Linked DNA regions of Homo sapiens. The main gene of each other region encodes a partner of the protein of the gene in region 2 in a complex. Each region holds a gene or a part of one and is shown on either strand. Other genes may lie near its edges. The genes, in order: NCKAP1 and CYFIP2.

What was found.
Region 1: CYFIP2 (region 2) and NCKAP1 share a complex: the UniProt entries of both Homo sapiens proteins name them as parts of the WAVE1 complex.

Annotation. Positions count from the first base shown.
Region 1 is NC_000002.12:182,908,630-182,917,122, reverse strand, and holds the end of NCKAP1 (nck-associated protein 1), read left to right. Parts: 3' UTR 1-8,008; downstream 8,009-8,493. UniProt on the Homo sapiens protein: Part of the WAVE complex that regulates lamellipodia formation. The WAVE complex regulates actin filament reorganization via its interaction with the Arp2/3 complex. Actin remodeling activity is regulated by RAC1.
Region 2 is NC_000005.10:157,261,009-157,270,004, reverse strand, and holds the start of CYFIP2 (cytoplasmic FMR1-interacting protein 2), read right to left. Parts: upstream 3,883-8,996; 5' UTR 3,810-3,882; exon of another isoform or gene 3,421-3,809; intron 3,225-3,420; exon of another isoform or gene 3,059-3,224; intron 682-3,058; exon of another isoform or gene 422-681; intron 1-421. UniProt on the Homo sapiens protein: Involved in T-cell adhesion and p53/TP53-dependent induction of apoptosis. Does not bind RNA. As component of the WAVE1 complex, required for BDNF-NTRK2 endocytic trafficking and signaling from early endosomes.

The DNA.
Region 1 (8,493 bases), on a different chromosome or scaffold from region 2:
TCATGCGTATAAATTGATGAGATGGTGGGGAAGAAGAGGCTACCACAAAGTAGGCATTCAGTGTAAATGGTGGTAGTTTCTCCAGTATTATTAGGCTATTTGGTTTCACTTATAAAATTGCCTTCAAAGAGTTTTTTCATGGCTTTTATGAGTATTATAATATCAGAACTTCCACTCATGCAAATGTAACATTTGTGTGTTAGTCTATTCTATAGCTCTGATCGGAGTCTTTATCTTAAATGGGAAAGATTATTTTCCCTGTCATGTAACTTTAACAGAAAACGATGCTAAAATTAATTTTAAGACTGCTCTATACTATATGTATGTTATACTATATTTTTATATACTATACACAAAAATGTATAAGATGTAAAGCTTGTATTTTCAAATGTTATTGCAGTATCCAGAACAATTGCGACAATTGCTCTTGGAAGCTTCTGTGCTTTTCCACATGCTGTTCCCTGTCTCTGGAATGGAATGTTCTCTTATTCTGGCTGGCAAACTCCTGAACATAATGTAAACAGTAAGCTCAAACATCACTTGCCCTTTCCTTACCATGCCATCCTGTTTCTTCTAAACCTTATAAATGCCTTTATTATAGTACATATTGAATCATAATGTAATTATTATTTATCTCTGACTCCTTTGATTCTGGGACTGCCTTGAGGTCACGGTCTAGGTTTATTTCATCTTTCTGTCTGTTTAGTCAAATTTCCTACCCTGTGTAACTCTCAGAATCTTACTTTAAGTTAGGAAAGGCCAGTGGCTGGACAGATGCTACAGACCTCCATTGGTACAGATGCCCTTAGCTTCATGTTGGGAACAAGTGGTTCTGTTTCTTTTTGTTCCTGTGGAGAAGCATCAGAGATACAGGCAGCTGGGGATTTCTACACCTGTAATAGCAGCAGCTCAGTGATGACACAGAGACATGTTTTTTTTTTTTTTTTTTTTTTGACAGAAGGCGAAGGGGAAGCAAGGTACTTCTTACATGGCAGAGGGAAAAGGAGAGTTGGAGTGGGGGAGGGGGAGAGGGAGGAGCAGGAGCAGGGAGACGGGGAGGGAGAGGAAACTGCCCCGAAGACATGGTTTCTAAGATTTCTCCCAATGAGACAAATCACTTGTCTGGGATGTCAGGGGGAGAAGATGCAGAATCTGAGCCCCTTGTATAAATAGACAAAAGGTGAAAGCATTGGCAATAGATCAAAAAGGCATTCCACGTAGCAAAAAAATTATTTTTAAATCTGAAAATTTAAGTGAAATGCCAAGAGCAAAGAAGAGAGGCCATCAGAAAAATTTCAAAGTGACTACTCAGGTCATTGTCCTGAAATAAATGATCATTTTATTCTGGTGACTCACCCCTAGCTAGAGTCAGTACTTCATAGAAAAGACAGGAGCTGTGAGACACTTAACTGTAATCTTACCCCTTTACAGAAATGCCTCCTATAGTCAAGCTGGTCTGATGATCTCATGTCATCATGCACAAGGATTAGCAAGCCTTGAAATTTTATCCTGTCAGTGTAACTCCTCATCTAGTCTCAAGATTGCACTGGCAGTTCTTTCGCAGCTGATCGTACAGGGAGGACCAATAAGGCTCATAGAACACCCTTGGAGAATGAATGCCTCTGCTGCTGGAGGTCACAGCACCCAGAAAGTGACTAGAGGGAGCAGCTGATACCTGCTCTAGTGAGTTGTGCTATTCCTGTCACATCCTTGCAGAGGTCCAAGGGTTGCTGGCAAGTGAAGGAATATCATGCCTGTAGTTTGAAGGATAGATCACTCAACTCTCAACTATTCTCTCTTCAGCTGTGAACCATACAACGTTTTTGAAAAGCAAAGTCTGAACATTTGCATTCTATACAGAATATTACAGTTGGAAAATAGGTGTGGTGTCTAGAGAAATGCTTCTAAATGCTGCAAGCCACCCTATGTGAAGCCTAGTCTAGAAATCTGCTTTGCTTCATTTATTAACTTCATTGTATCTTTGGAAGTAGAAGTTCTTAAAAGTGTGTACAGAAGATGAGTCCTCAGCATGAGTTTCACTGCCTGTCTGTGTGAGAGGAAGTGACCTTGAGAGCAGCTGTAGCCCTAGGGGGACACCCAGGTAGAGGTGCTCACAACATGCTCTGACACCCGGTATGGCTGCATTCCCAGCTTAAATGATCACATCTGCTCTTGGTTTTTTCACTGTTTACAAAATCTGATTTCTTTAAAGGGAAGGGATGGAAAAGGTAGTCAATGCTCCTCTGAGCACCCAAAGCATCCCTCCACAAGAACAAAGAGGAAAAATCATTACTTGCTCCCAACATTACACAAAGCGCATCTCTACCAATGGAACTCTGCAGTGTCGGTCTAGCCATCAGCCTTTCCCACCTCACAGCATATTTTCTGTGGGGGTAATTTATTAGAGGGGAATTTGTTCCTTTTTACTCTTTTTACTCTTCAAATTAGTAATAGAACCCCTCATGTCATTCTAAGTGACTTAAGTTTTAAAGGGAACCAGAAAAGGAGAGAATATGCTATTGTGGCACTTCTAAAATGCAGAGTGTCCTCAAAGATGGTTATAGTGGGTAATGGGTTTCATATAAATTGCATACTAGAGTATCTCCATTTCCTCTTTTAATTTTTTAATTGGTTTTTTAAAGCTTGATATGCTGAGTTAGTTTTCATTTAAAAACAATGCTTGAGTAGGAAAGTTAAAGAAATAGAAATTGCCTGTTTTAATCTATTCATCCTGGCAGCAGGTATGTATTGTATCTGTCCAGAGTCCAAAACGTCAGCTCCCTCCACTTGCCTTCCCCATTTCACATAAACTATAAAAGTTAGAAATAATATATTATGTCATATCCTAACATCAGTTCAATGAATATAGTTTTTAAAATACCTACTATGTGCTAGATACTGAGGACAGAATGATAAAATACAAAACAAAGCTAACTAAAAACACAGTTTAACTAGTCTTGTCTACGATTACCTGCCCTAACTATAACTTCATTTAAGGGGAGATACTGCTAAAGGGAGTTCCTTCTGTGACTGCACACTCTGATACCAATATGTGACTTCTCCCTGGCTACAACTGATTAAATGAGGGAAGAAAACTGATCCAAGGGGAGTTAGTCCAATAGCTTGTAAATGGTGGGTTCTTATCAGAGTTTTCTCACTAAGTTAGAACCAAGAGGCTGAGGGTTGTGGGGGCTACTTAAGCAGAAAGTTTCATGGAGTATGGACTGTGCACCATTGTGAAGTTTCCTGTATTTCCACAGGCTGTGGGGGCAGAGAGCATCAGAGTGCTGATCAGGAAAAAAGAATGAGGCAGATGCAGACAGAGAAGCAAAGAAGCATGAGAGGATGAGAATTAGGAAGTAGACTCTTTTTTCATTTTAATTAATTTGACTAGATTATATTTCTTGCAATCAAAAGGGCCCTGTGCAGAGAAGGTCCTTATCTTCGTTCATTTTTTGTTGCTATAGCTGAATACCCGAGACTGGGTAATTTATAAAGTAAAGAAATTTATTGCTTACCATTTTAGATGCTGGGAAGTACAAGGTCAAGGGTTCTCATCTAGTGAGGGCCTTCTTGCTAGTGGGGTCTCTGTAGAGTCCTGAGGTAACACAGAGCATCACATGGTGTGGGGGTGGGATTCACCAGAGAGAGCCAAACTGACTTTTATAACAGACTCACTTTTGTGGTAACTAACCCACTCCCTTGATAGCCCATCAATCCATTAATCTAGAAATAAATTCATTCACTCATGAGGGCAGAGCTCTTGTGAACCAATCACCTCCCAGAAGTCCCACCTCTCAACACTGCTGCACTGGGGACCAAATTTCCAACACATGAACTTTTCGGGGACACATTCAAGCCACAACAGTCCTCAATAAATATTTGTTGAATCAATAAATACACAGGACATAGTGTCCTAAATGCTTGGCATGTACATGAACCAGATTTGGTCCTTGATGTCACAGAGCTTATAATATAGTGGAGGAGACAGACTTTACATGTTTGATCTTGACTGTAAAACTAGGGTCACTACTCATCATCTGATGAAGGAGGCAGACAGTAAAACAAATAACAACTATTCAACATGGTAACGTCAAAACTGAACAGAGGCTCAAGTGAAAGTTTCAATGATAGTAACCATGGCCAATGGATAGGTGAATGCATTGGAAAATTAGTATGATGCCATTAGCAAAAACATAAATTGCACTTAACTAAAGTTCATCTGGCTGAATTCTTTCCTTCCTTCCTTCCTTCCTTCCTTCCTTCCTTCCTTTCTTCCTCTATCTTTCTTTGGTTTTGAGATCTGTCTATAGTATTGTGCTAGTGCACATATTTTAATTTGGTGCAAGGCATGCTTAACAGAGTAAGTGAAAAGCTATAAAGGTTAGAGCGTGTATTAGTTTCAATGACGAAGGAGTAATAAATCATTTTGTCAGGTTGCACTCTAACATTCAAATTCCATTTTTATTATGGCTAACTAGCCAAGCATTTATAATTCTGAACTCCACAGAATGGGGAAAAAGTGTATTAACTTATAATAGATCATTGAGCTTGTTAAATGTACCTTTCCTAATTCGTACTTTTTCCCTTTTGCTGAGAAAAATGCCTTTCTGAATATATAATTTTTACAGGTCATTGGAAAGGAGTACTGCACAACAGGATTATTATAATGTGCTAAAAGATGGCACTTGTATCTCATTGCCACATAGAGAGCTCATGTGAAAACTCTTTGATCTTTGCTGGCTTTTTAGCTGAAAAGATTTGGAAATCTTTTTGGCACTGGCAAAAACAGAACTGTGGTAACTGTTTATAGTTGGTTGATTTTTAGCAATGGGTAAGAATGTCTTTGTTGAATCCAGTTTATTAATACGTAATGGGCAACATGTTGCCTTAAAGGCAAAAGCATATTTTTCTCATATCAAAAAGCTCCCTAAATTTTTGCCAATATCCAAAGATATTTTAAGATGGTCTTCATTTTCTTTTTCAGTCTGTCCTATGCTGAGAAAAAAAAATTACAACCTCTGAACTTCAGCAGTTTTTTAGGTAAAAGGAATTTTTCATGATGTGATTGATATAACTACTCAGCTGGACATAAGCTTTCAAGGGCTAAGTCCATTTGCCGATTTGTTTGCATTTCCTACTCCAACTAAAATAATTCAAAGACATGAAGTGTCTATTGTGGAAAATGCATGAATAATGCAAAAGTCATTCTCAAGTGACCTATCAGAAAGGCCTACCAGAAATGCAGTTACTGCTTTCTAATAAAATCATGAAAAACTTTTTTAAAAAGTATAACCATCTTGAATTTGTTGAGGCAATTATAAGAGAGTATATAAGGGCAAGTTTCTCCAAAAGCGGTTCTGTTTGTTTTGTTTTTTTTTAATAATTCCCATCAACAGCAATCTGTTTTCTCATTGTAGTAGTATAGGTGTTAACATAAAAGCTCAAACAGCTTGGGAGAAAAAAAAGGATATAGCAAACCTAACTGATAACTTTGCTAGTTTCAAATCATTATGATGGCCATTCATAGATGACTGAAATATTTAACATTTGAAGTAACAGAATTTTGACTTATGTTTTCATGGTTTAAGAGTTTATATTTCAAATTTTTTCACATAGTCTGTTTATAACAGTATATAAAACATGTATTAACTATATAAGTTAATAAAGTCATGAACTGATGGCCATTTTTTGGTCTTATTCATATAGTATAGGCTGTTTTGTGAATTAATCCCCTTCCCATGTGTTTGAATTCCCCACTATGTAAGGCTTAGTGGTGTTAGCATGATCCAAGGGTGGGATTTTCAGCCCTCTGACATCAAAAGGTGAAGCAGAGGACACAAAAACCCTCACTGCATCTTCCCTAGACTGGCCAGAACCACTCCATGGTCAGTGGACTCCCTTAATAGGAAGGAATGCTGGTCAGTTGTCAAAGAGCAAAAAGGGAGGGGTAGTCATGAGGTTGGTTGTAATCAGAGGTGCAACAGGTCTTTCCAAAGGGCTGGTTTCTGTTTAACTCTTAGGAAAGAACACCTAATGGTAGTTAGTGAGGAGGGGGTATAATGAGATGTGCCCAACCTCCCATCCCATCATGGCCGGGAACTCAGTTTTTAAGGTTTCCCTGAAGTCCTCTTGGCCAGGAGAGGGTCTGTTTAGTCAAATGTGGGGGGGGAGCTTAGGATTTTATTTTTATTTCCAAGTTATAATGTTGGACCATCAGAGCATGAATACAGGTTGAGTCTTTAATCTGTAAATACTTAGCAATCACCTTCTTCTCAGTAACTTTCTCTGAAGGTTGCTGATAAGCCAGTGTTCTTGATGTTTGCCCACTTACCCCTCAAGATGAGGAGTGAAGAAATTAGATTGCATTGCCAGGAATTTCCTAGAAGAAAAGGTTTTGAGGATGCATGACCTATGAGGGTGCTGAGGACCCCTTTCCACCAAACATGGACTAACTTCTGGGTTGCTCTTTCACATCTATTGTCTTGTTCGACGTACACAGAAGTGCAGAGCACAGCCGCAGCCCTCACAGCATCATCTATCTAGGTTCTGAATCCTGAATGGTCTGAGGCTCTCCTAGAGCTGAGATTCTCCTTTGCAGTTCCAGTGGAGAAAAGCACTTTCTTTGCCGAGGCAGTGTAACTTCCTTGTTCCCAAGGCTCCAACTGTTGTGGGCACATATGAGTATACATTAACATCCATGCCCAATTTATAATCACTGTTTTCCCCACATGTGTACTCAGACCTCCAAGCTTCTGAAAAATATTTCCTCTCATCTCTCAAAGAATTTTAGTACATTTGCCTGGATGCAGAAACACAAATCATGCTGGCTTTCCTACTCAATCAAAAACTGTAGCTTGAGTGGGGTGGCAAGGGTTGTCCCACAGCAGGTTTACTTGGACTCCAAAATGATGTAGAGTTTAGTGAGGCAGCTCCTTGAGTTTGAACTTAGAGCCCTTTTGGCTACCAGGGCACCTGCAGTCCTCCAAGATAGTAGAGTCTGAACCAGTTAAAGAGCCAGCTACCACAGCTTTGCAGAAACCACTGTTTCTCCTTAACTCTAGGGCTCAGCGGTTGAACTCCTTAGAATAAAACTTTCTGTCTGCGACCCTATCATTTTCTTTTGTATTTTGGCCTTCACTGAATTCCCACCCCATCCATTCCAACAGACTTGGTTATACGTGTCTGAACACCAAATGTGACAGAATTTGTGGCCTTGGATCAGGAGGCTATTTGGCCCTTATCTAAATCGGTGGCTGAGAATGGATTCCAGGGAAGTGTTTTTCTTAGGAGTACCCAAGAAGCTCAGCTCAGGTTGGGCTCCCTGTTCTATTCTGAGAACTACAAATCAAATTCAAAATGGAGCACAGAAAATTCTCATTTCTAGTTGACTTATTTGTATTTTGGTGTCCTGTGCCCTAAATATCTTCTCAAGGAAACCTTGGCTTTAAAAGTGATTGTTTACTTAAACAAATAAAACAACAACATACAAGAAAAGGCAGTAAATCCGAGCGTCCATCAACAAATGAATCAAAAAACAAATGAGATATATATGTACGGTGGCATATTATTCAGCCTTAAAAAGGAAAGAAATTTTGACACATGAGACAATATGAATGAACCTTGAAGACATTAATTATGCTGAGTGAAATAAGCCAGCCACAAAAGAACAGATATTGTATAATTCCTCTTATATTAGGTACCTAAAATAGTCAAATTGATAGAAAGTAGAATGTTGGTTGGCAGGGGCTGGCAAGGAGAGGGAAATGAAGAGAAGGTGTATGAAGGGAACAGAGTTTCAGTTGGGGAAGACGAAAAAGTTCTGACAGTGGATGATGGTGGTTGTTGCACAGCAACATGAATGTACTTAATGCCACAGAACTGTATGCTTAAAAATGGTTGAAACGGTAAATTTGATATAATGTGTATTGAACCTATTTCCAGATCAAAACAGAGAGATCTACATTCCTTTTGGTGGTGTCAAAATAAACCATTATCTTGAAATAGCCTAAATGTGTTATGTGTCCTATTGAACAGTCCGATTGCATTCTTCAAAAAAATACAGTAGTGAACATCTGAATATATATATTTGAGCACTTGGATAAATATATATGCTTTAAAAAGTCCCAGAAATGTGGTACATTATCATATAACAGTTGTACCAGTTGACACTCCCATCTGCGATATATGATCCCTGTGTCCTCATGGTCCAGCAATGGATATTATCCAATTTTTTAACCTCTGTCGATTGGATAGATGAAAAATATTGTCTGAGTGAGGTTGAACATCTTTTTTGTATGTTTATTGACTTGTAAGAGGTCACTTATTAACAAAATGTACACATATTAATGAAATTGTTTTTGTCTATCACATATTTGGCAAATGTTTTCTAAACTTATCATTTGTCTTTATTTTTTTTTTAGCCATACAGAACTTTTAAATAGTTAGGCTGACGAACTATATCCAGTTTTTCAAGATTAAAAAAATTCCCCA
Region 2 (8,996 bases):
CTTTCAAGAATTTGCACCCTCTGTTGCCAGGGCCCAAGTATGGCTTAAATGGCTATTTTTTGAGGTACATCACACACAGCCCTTAGCATAATGCCCATGGCTAGAAAGCCAATATCTAAGCTCTTTGCATCCTGGGAGGCGTCCCATACCCACTGACTGAATTCTGAAGTGTCTTTGTACAGACAAGGCCATCCAGGGGCCTTGACAGAATCTGTGAATCACAAAGTGCCTTTAAGCTTCCCATTGGCTCAACAGTACAGAGAGGCCACAGATCCATCTTCTTAAAGTGACACACAATATATAATTAATAAATTGTTTCTTAAGGAATGGAGGGCATTTACCCAAAAGAGTCACACATTCAGGAGGCTCCTTCTCTATTTCCACGGCTTTTTTTTCTCAGACTGGGATTTACAGACATTACCTCATCCGCAGGCTTTCATGATGACAGGCAGGTAACAGTTGGGCAGGCTGCCTTCCATTGCTCAATTTTGAACGTCAGAGAGGTAGTGGCTGGTTTAAGGGCACACAGCAAGTCAGGGATCCTGTGTCCCATGCTCACTGTGCTGCTCTGTCTGCCCTGGAAGCAAAGCATGCCCTCAACATTTTTGGATGGTTGCAAAATGCTGAATTCTCACAGAGGAAGAGGCCCTTCCTTAACTCTACGTGTTGAAATGTGAGAATGGCCCTGGGCTTCTGCTTGGCTTGTTCCCTCCCACTTCTCCCTACCTACTCAGGTTCCACCCACCTCTCTTGTGCTACTTAAGAGCACTTCCCACCTGAAGCCTTTCACTTCATGCCCTATCACTCTTAACTTTCCCTTCCTTCGGCCGGTAAACTTGGGGCTGGGTTTACTGGTCACAGAGACCAACTTCCCTCAAAAAAGCAAAATTCAGGAAAGCTCTGGAGGGAGAGGGGCTGGTAATAGCCAAGGGTTGATTACATACATAAGCCAAATTCTTAATGATTATGTAATTAATACATTATAACAATAAATACATAAATATGCTAGTACTTACTATGTGCTAAGCATTCTGCTCGGCACTTTCATGCACCCCTTGGGTAGTAAGAGCATCCAAAGATATTCTAGTTCCTCCCCTGCCTCCATTCACTGCCAAGAAGGCAGCAGCCTGCCCCCCTTCTCCCACCATCTCACTACTGATGCAGGGGCCATCCCCTGGACCCTAGGCATGGCTTTGCTCCTCAGAATGACAGGACCAAAAGCCTTTCATAAAGACTCCAGTGAGGTGACTGATGTCTGGCTTTGTCAATTACAAGTGAATAATTAATACTTGCCAGTAAAGAAATAGACTCATTGTTACGGTGGCCACATGGAGGCTACAAAAGGCCATTTTGTGACGCTTTTGGTGGACCCCTGGGGCCAACAGTGGTCCAAAGAAGCTGCGTTGAGAGTGTAGTCCAATCTTTAAACGTAGGGACTGGGACCCGTACTGTTTTCCAGGAGCGCTTTTCCCGTTAATTAGCTTGTAGCCGATTCATCATCTCATTCAGCTTTCTGGTTGATGACAGCAGCAGAGGCCACTGAACATCAGAGAGGGCATGATTTATCAGAGGGGTCATGTAGTGTTCTACCAGGGCCTTTTACCGGTTTTTGAATTCATGTCTACTTCCTTCTCTGGGCCAGCATCTGATTTGAGTAAAACTCTCCAACCCCACTGGGTTGTACATCCGACTCTTGGCCTAATGCCTAAAGCAAGTTTTTCCTTTTTCATTTTCCAGCAGGGACTGAACAAGGCAGCCTTGGGTGCCTACAGAACCGGTCAGAACTGGCCAGGAAATATAATAAAGAAGCTTAGTGAGCAGAGAGCTAATGCCCCCAGCCAGAGGCTCAGTGCGCACAACTAGCTAGAGGCACTGACTTTGTAAGCAACAACACTATCTTCTTGAGGTCTAATAATTGCCTTGGCAAAGGGCAGCCAATGCCAACGAGGAACCCTGTGTACACAAGTTTCTCATCCCGAAAGTGGACACTGGGTGCTCAAAAAATGCCTTCTGGTGACAGTAACACCTGACCAGTCAAACAAACATGCACGCATGCACATGCATGCATACACACTCTTACAGCATTCCTGCCTGCAGGGCCAAAGCTGCCCTTGCCAAATACAGAGCTGACAGCTGCTAGATATTGTCATTTCAGGGACCCGTTCCCAAAAGAACTACCCAGCTCCCCACCTCCACTTCCAGCCCACTGTTTGAAATTCTACCATTAGTGATAGCAAATATTTCTACAGTGTTTCCCATTAAAGCTTTGTTTCCCATTAAAATGCCTCCATCCTCTGTTTCTTTTCCGGTCAAATGACTTGTAAAGCACCTGCTCTGCATCAAATGGGAACTTCTTTTGTATTTAGCTCTTCAAGATAAACACAATCATTGGCTCCTTTCTTGAAAACCATTTCTGACACTGGAGACTGGGGGAAGGGCAGGGCACTGTATGGAAGTGGAGGTGGGAGGCCACCAGGAGGGCCACAGAGAGAGGGTCTAATGGTGGAGAAAGCAACCATCAAGGCCTTCACAGGCCTGCCCAAAGATATGGACCTGATTTTTGCCCTCTAAGATCTCAGGGACCCAGGTTGCTGGCACAGCCTGTATCCAAGAGTAAGGTGAGACCCACTGCCCTAACTGGGACACAGACAGGAGGCAGGAAATGGGAACACAGGAACCGACAGTCTCCTGATTTGCCCCTCCTGCCAGCAGGCCTGCCTCCGTCTCCCTGCCCATGCTGAGGGCACAGGCACCCAGGAACTAGCAGAAAAAGATCCTTGTCCCATTCTTGGCCTAGCTGGAAGGACAGCTGATGGCTCATCAGCCCTGGTGAGTGTTTCCACTGTGCTGGGGAAAGTAGGCAAGCAAAGGTCAAAATCAGATTCCCTGTGCTGGGGAGGCACCTGGGCTGTCAGTGTCCTTTCCAGCCGGGTTCTGGATATAGAGGGCCATACTTATGTGGAACATGCTACCTGCCCCCATCCCCAAGCAGAGAGCACCTCCTCCTCTTCTTTTGCACATAGGTGGGCTGTTCTTTGGGGTGAGGGGTAGGGCTGACCTGAAAAGTAGACGCCACAACAGACAGGCAAGCATCTTCCTGGTTCTTCAGAGCTCAAGAAAAAAACCACCTTTTCCCCCAGGAGTCAGCCCACTCATCCCCTTCCCCCACTTCCACCGTGCCCGCAGCCAGCTTGGTGAGCGATGCTAGTGTAGGCCAGAAAGCTTCCAAGCGGGTCAGACCTGCTCCTCTCTCATCAAAGCCCTCCGCCCCCAAACATCGACGCTGCGCCCCTCGCCCCACCCATCACACGTTCTGTGTGCCCGAGGCGGCTGCCAGGCGGGCCCAGGCGGCTCTCGCTGGCCCTGGGGGAGGTGACGGTGGTCACGGCGGCAGAGGCAGGGGCCAGCGCTCTGCAGTACCTGGACTCGAGGATGTCGCCGCTGCCGGGCTCGCGGCCGCTGCAGGTGTCTCCGGTCCCTGAGATTAGCACCGCCTCCTCCCGGGCTGGCGGCTCCGGCCCAGGCCGCGCACCTGCTGCTGCGGCTCCCCCGCCGCCGCGCCGGAGCTCCGCGATGTGCCCGCGCCTCCCGGGCAGAGGGTCCGTGCCGCGGGACGCACGGTGGGTCCGAGGGGGAAAGGGGCCGCGTGGGGCCTGAGGCCGGGCCTCGGGCTAGCCCGGGCACAGCGCCGAGCGCCCCCCGCGGGCCGGGAGAGGGGGCGGCCCTTCGCGCATCCTCACGGCCTCATCCCCGTCCCCGGCGGCATCCTAGTCCCCGTGCCCGGCCCGAGGCCTGCGAGGGCCGCTTACCTGGCTCTGCGGCGGGTCCAGGGGAGGGGCCTGAGGCTACCGCAGGGCCCCGCGCCGGGGCGCAGGATGCTCTGCCCCGCTCCGCTGCGCCGCGCTCGGCCCCGCCCCGGCCCCGCTGCTCCGCCCGCCGCGGCTCCGCCCCCACCCAGCGCCCGCCCCTTCGCCGCAGCGGCTGTCACACAAAGGGCAGGAAATGGCTGCGGCGAGGGTCTCTCCACGCTCTCCGCTGTACCGCCGGCGCACCCAGGACCTGCCTCTCGGTTTCGGAGGACCGCTCAGCCCCCAGGCTTCCTGCCCTGGGGGCGGGAAAGGGAGGGAAGGCTTCTTCCACGGCCTCCATCACCGGGAACCACACCTGCAGCAACCCGAGGACGAGAGCTTCGGCCGCGTTCGGATCTTATTGGCCCCACATGATTTCCAAGTGCTCTTTTATCAACCCAGTCTTTATTGATTACCTATCCTGTTCCAAGTACCGTGCCAGGACTTGGGTGTGCACTGGTGTACAAAAGACAGGGTCCTGCCCCCTTGGAGTTTTATCACCTGCCAGGAGAAACAGGTGTAAATTAACCTAGCAAACGTCCAGTTACAGCCCAAAGTGCTCTGAGGAGAAGGAGCAGGGTGAAGTGACAGAAGATGCAACTGGGGCTAGGGGAAGGGGCCTTCCACCAATTGAGCTTGGTCGCTGATAGGGCTCCTTCGCTTAAGAATAAGTTCTTCCGCTCCCTTCCAGTTCCCTGGAGAAGAGTCCCTGAAGCTGCCACCTCTTTTACAGGGGCCTGCCTCAACTTCATTCTGGAAGAATTGCCTAACGGACAAATAGGTGGCAGGAAGCACTGAGAGGACAGGTACCTTTCTCTTCAAGGCTTATCTGCCGTGTCGGGCTCTTTAAAGAAGCAATTATCTGCCCAGCGGTGGCTCACACCTGTAATACCAAAACTTTGGGAGGCCGAGGAGAGAGGATTGCTTGAGCTCAGGAATTGGAGACCATCCTGGGCAACTCAACGAAACTTCATCTCTACTAAAAATTAAAAAAAAAAAAAAATAGATGGGTGTGGTGGCATCCACCTTTTGTCCCAGCTACTCAGGAGGCTGAGGTGGGAGGATTGCTTGAGCCTGGGAGATTGAGGCTACAGTGAGCTATGATCCTGCCGCCGCACTCCAGACTGGGTGACAGAGTGAGACTCTGTCTCAAAAAAAAAAAAAAAAGAATGAAAGAGAGAGACGGGGGGAGAGAGAGAGAGAGAAAGGAAGAAAGAAAAAGAAAGAGAGAGAAAGAAGAGAAGGAAAGAAAGAAGAGAAAGAAAGAGAGAAAAGAAAAAGAGAAAGAAACAATTCTCATTGAAATCCAGCCTGGTAGGCCTTCAGACCAGGCTGAAGTCAGGCTGCACCAAATTCTAACCTTGAGACACCTGAGCAGGTCACTTCACCACTCTGCTCCACAGAGGTCACCGTATCTGCAACACAGGGAATAACAGTTGCCCTTTATACCTTACAGGGTAAATAATTTGAAAACATTTGAGACATTGTGGAGTGTATGTAGATATAAGGAGTGGTTTCCTAAGGCCCACAAATTTATACTTAATCACTCAGCTGTTCCTAATAAGGGCAATTTGTGGAGGAGCCCCGTTATTCAAGCTCCAGCAAAGGACTTGTGGAAGCCTTTGCTTTCCTTTACTGATCTCACCTTATTTCCCACGTGCTCAGAATCCATAATTCCTTGTGGTTTGATCTTAAATCGCTAATTCCAATTCAAATTGCTATTTCGGAAAAAAATGACTTATATATATATATATATACACACACATACATTTCTTCCCTGGTTCAGTGTGAAAAGCTGTGGGGGTGTTTGTGGAGGATGGGTTTAAAAACAGAACTGAGGTTTCCTTTTTAAAAAATGTTTCATTTTCCACCGTGATCCTTGGGATTTCAAGTTCAGTGATTACAAATACTTAACAATGAGAATCCCAATAAATCAGATTTTCATTCTAAGGGGCATATTATTGCAGATGGTATAGTTTTTTGGAAGACGTATTTCTCCCTGTTGTTCCTTCCCTGTCTTTTCACCTTCAGGAACAAGTTGCCTAAAAACAGAAAAGACTATTACATATATATTTGGTTAGATCTTAGGCAAAAATAACTCCGACCTCTGAGTTCTATTTGTGTATAAAGGAGAGCAGTATGGTCTTTTGAAGCCACTGTGTTGGAAATCCAGAGGCTTGCCTTTTGGTTCTAGTTTTGCAACTAACAGAAGAATGATCTTAGGCAAGGAGCCTCACCCCTGTTTCCTCACCTGTTAAGTGAAGTAAGTTGGATGCTCTCCAACTTCCCTCTGAATGTGGAAAATTACATGAGTTAAAGGGCACGTCCCTCCCAGGCTTAAGGCACTTCCCTAGCTCCCCACTGCCCCCCGATGAAGCCCAAACTCTCCAGTGGCCGGAGAGGGTCTTTAAGAGCTGGCAGCTATCTCTCCATGTGAACAAGCTTGCTGTGCTTCAGCTAAAAGGAACAGCTTTTAGTTCCTCAAACTTGCTGTGTTCTCTGTTGTGCTCGACATTCGTACATGCAAGGCTTCTTCAATGGCAGTTTCTGTCCCCCCATTCCCTCCCTCCACATTCCACACTTTTTCCCAGTTTACCTGATGAAGTTCTGTTCATCTTCCTGGTATTCCTCTAGATGTCGCTTCCTCCAAGATTCCTACATGTCTGGGTTAGCTTGAGATTAGTTGTCTATGTGTCCTTAGCTGCCTGGGCTCCCTCTATCACCCCACGTATTAGTCTGCATTATAATTGTCAACACACTTCCCTGTATTCCACCATGAGACCATAAAATCTAAGGGAGCAGGGATATGTCTGTCTTGCTTTCCCATTGCATCCTTGGAGCCTGGTACTTAACAGGAGTTCAGTAAAAATGGATGGAATGAACACCCATAGGTGACATTTTTAAACTTTGCCACTGAAATGTATAGCTGTCTGTCTACTGCCTTCAGATTTCCTTCACATCCAACCCCAAGCTGTGCATCAGCAATGAAATGGTAGAGGATATCAATAAGAATTGCTTTGGTACTTGCAAAGCTGTGGCCCACATGTTGTCCATGTGGCAACATTACCTTGTGTTTTAGAAAAGCTTCAAGTTATAATCCCAGCACTTTGGGAGGCCGAGGCAGGTGGATTGCCTGAGGTCAGGAGTTCGAGACCAGCCTGGCCAACATAGTGAAACCCAGTTTCTACTAAAAATACAAAAAATTAGCTGGGCATGGTGGCGAGCGCCTGTAATCCCAGCTACTCAGGAGGGTGAGGCAGAATTGCTTGAACCCGGGAGGTGGAAGTTGTAGTGAGCCGAGATCACACTGTTGCACTCCAGCCTGGGCAACAAGAGCAAAACTCTGTCTCAAAAAAAAAAAAAATATATATATATATATGTATTTTAAAACTATCAGGAGACCCTGCTTTATAGACACCAGTAATGAAGTATCTGGAATGGGCATGAAGGGAAAACATAAATAATGATAATAATAATAATGGCTAACATTTACCAAGTACATTACCTCATTTAATTTTTCGTAATTTTTCTATAAGGAAAATACAATCATTTTTCCCATTTTTATAATTGAGGCAATTAAGGTTTAATAATTTGCCCAAGGTAGTGAAGTCAAACCCATGCTTTTTACCACAATCTCATACAGCCTCACTTTCCCTCTTCCAAGCTAAGTCCATTTGTTTACTAATATGCTACCTTATTCTAAAAACATATTAAATGTAAGTTACAGGAATACATTATGTTAAAAAATTAAAAATCAGCAAGAAATTTTTTAAAAAGAAGGAAAAGAGTAGAGAGATGAGATGGAGAATCGAATGTACATAAGACCAAAATGTAAACAAAACAAAAATCAATCACAGCTCTACCTGCTATGAGCTTGCTAACACATTTGGTTCTAAGTATTTATGTGGGTGGCAGGAAAAGATAAACTTGATGGTCAGTTACAGAATTTACATTGGCCATTCTGTAGATAGAACCTGACCACTTGCTCAAAATTGCCTCATTTTATAGGCAAGAGAATTGCTTGAGCCCAGGAGGTGGAGGTTGCAGTGAGCAAAGATGGTGCGGCTGCATTCCAGCCTGGGCAACAGAGCAAAACACTGTATCAAAACAAAGCAAAACAAAACAAAACAAAAAAGTATATCCCTTAGATTCTTGTGAAGGTTATATGAAATGATAATGTAACACACTAAGCAGAGTCTGGTACATAATAAATGCTCAAAAATGGGATTATTATTATGATTTTCTTTTTGAGACAGAGTCTCACTCTGTCGCCCAGGCTGGAGTGCAGTGGCATGATCTTGGCTCACTGCAACCTCCGCCTCCCAGGTTCAAGTGATTCTCCTGCCTCAGCCTCCCGAGTAGCTGGGATTATGGGCATGTGCCCCTACACCTGGCTAATTTTTGTATTTTTAGTAAAGATGTAGTTTCACCATGTTAGCCAGGCTGGTCTCGAACTCCTGATCTCAGGTGATCCTCCCGTCTCGGCCTCCCAAAGTGCCAGGATTACAGGTGTGTGCCACCACGCCTGGCCTGTGGCCATCTCTTGTTGCTATTGTGGTGAACTCAAGTGTTGCCAGTATCCACTTCAAGTGCTGTGTGATGCTAATCATCTCTGAGTGAGCAATTCATCTCTCATGATGAAACATTTTTCATCATGTTTAGTGTAATACAGCAAACCTTGAATAACACCATGGAACCCACATGAAGTGACACTAGTGATGCTGAAAGTGTTCCCAAAAAGCAGAGAAAAGTCATAACATTACAAGAAAAAAGCTGAATTTTCTTGATATGTACCATAGATTGAGGTCTGCAGCTGCAGTTGTCCATCATTTTAAGATGAATGAATTTAGCATAAGGACCACTGTAAAAAGAAAGAAAGAAAGAGAAAGAGAGAAAGAAGGAAAGAAAATTCATGAAGCCGTAGCTGCGGCTCCCAGCAGGTATGAAAACCTTGCACTTTTTGTTAAATACCATTTTAGCTCATATTGAAAATGCAGGTTTTAGGTGGGTGCGTTGCTATAAAGATTGCTATAAGAAAGACGTACCCATAGACTCTAATATAAGTCAGGAAAAAGTGAAGTCATTATATGACAATTTAAAGCAAAAGAAAGGTGAAGGATCTAAAGCTGAAGAATTTAATGCCAGCAA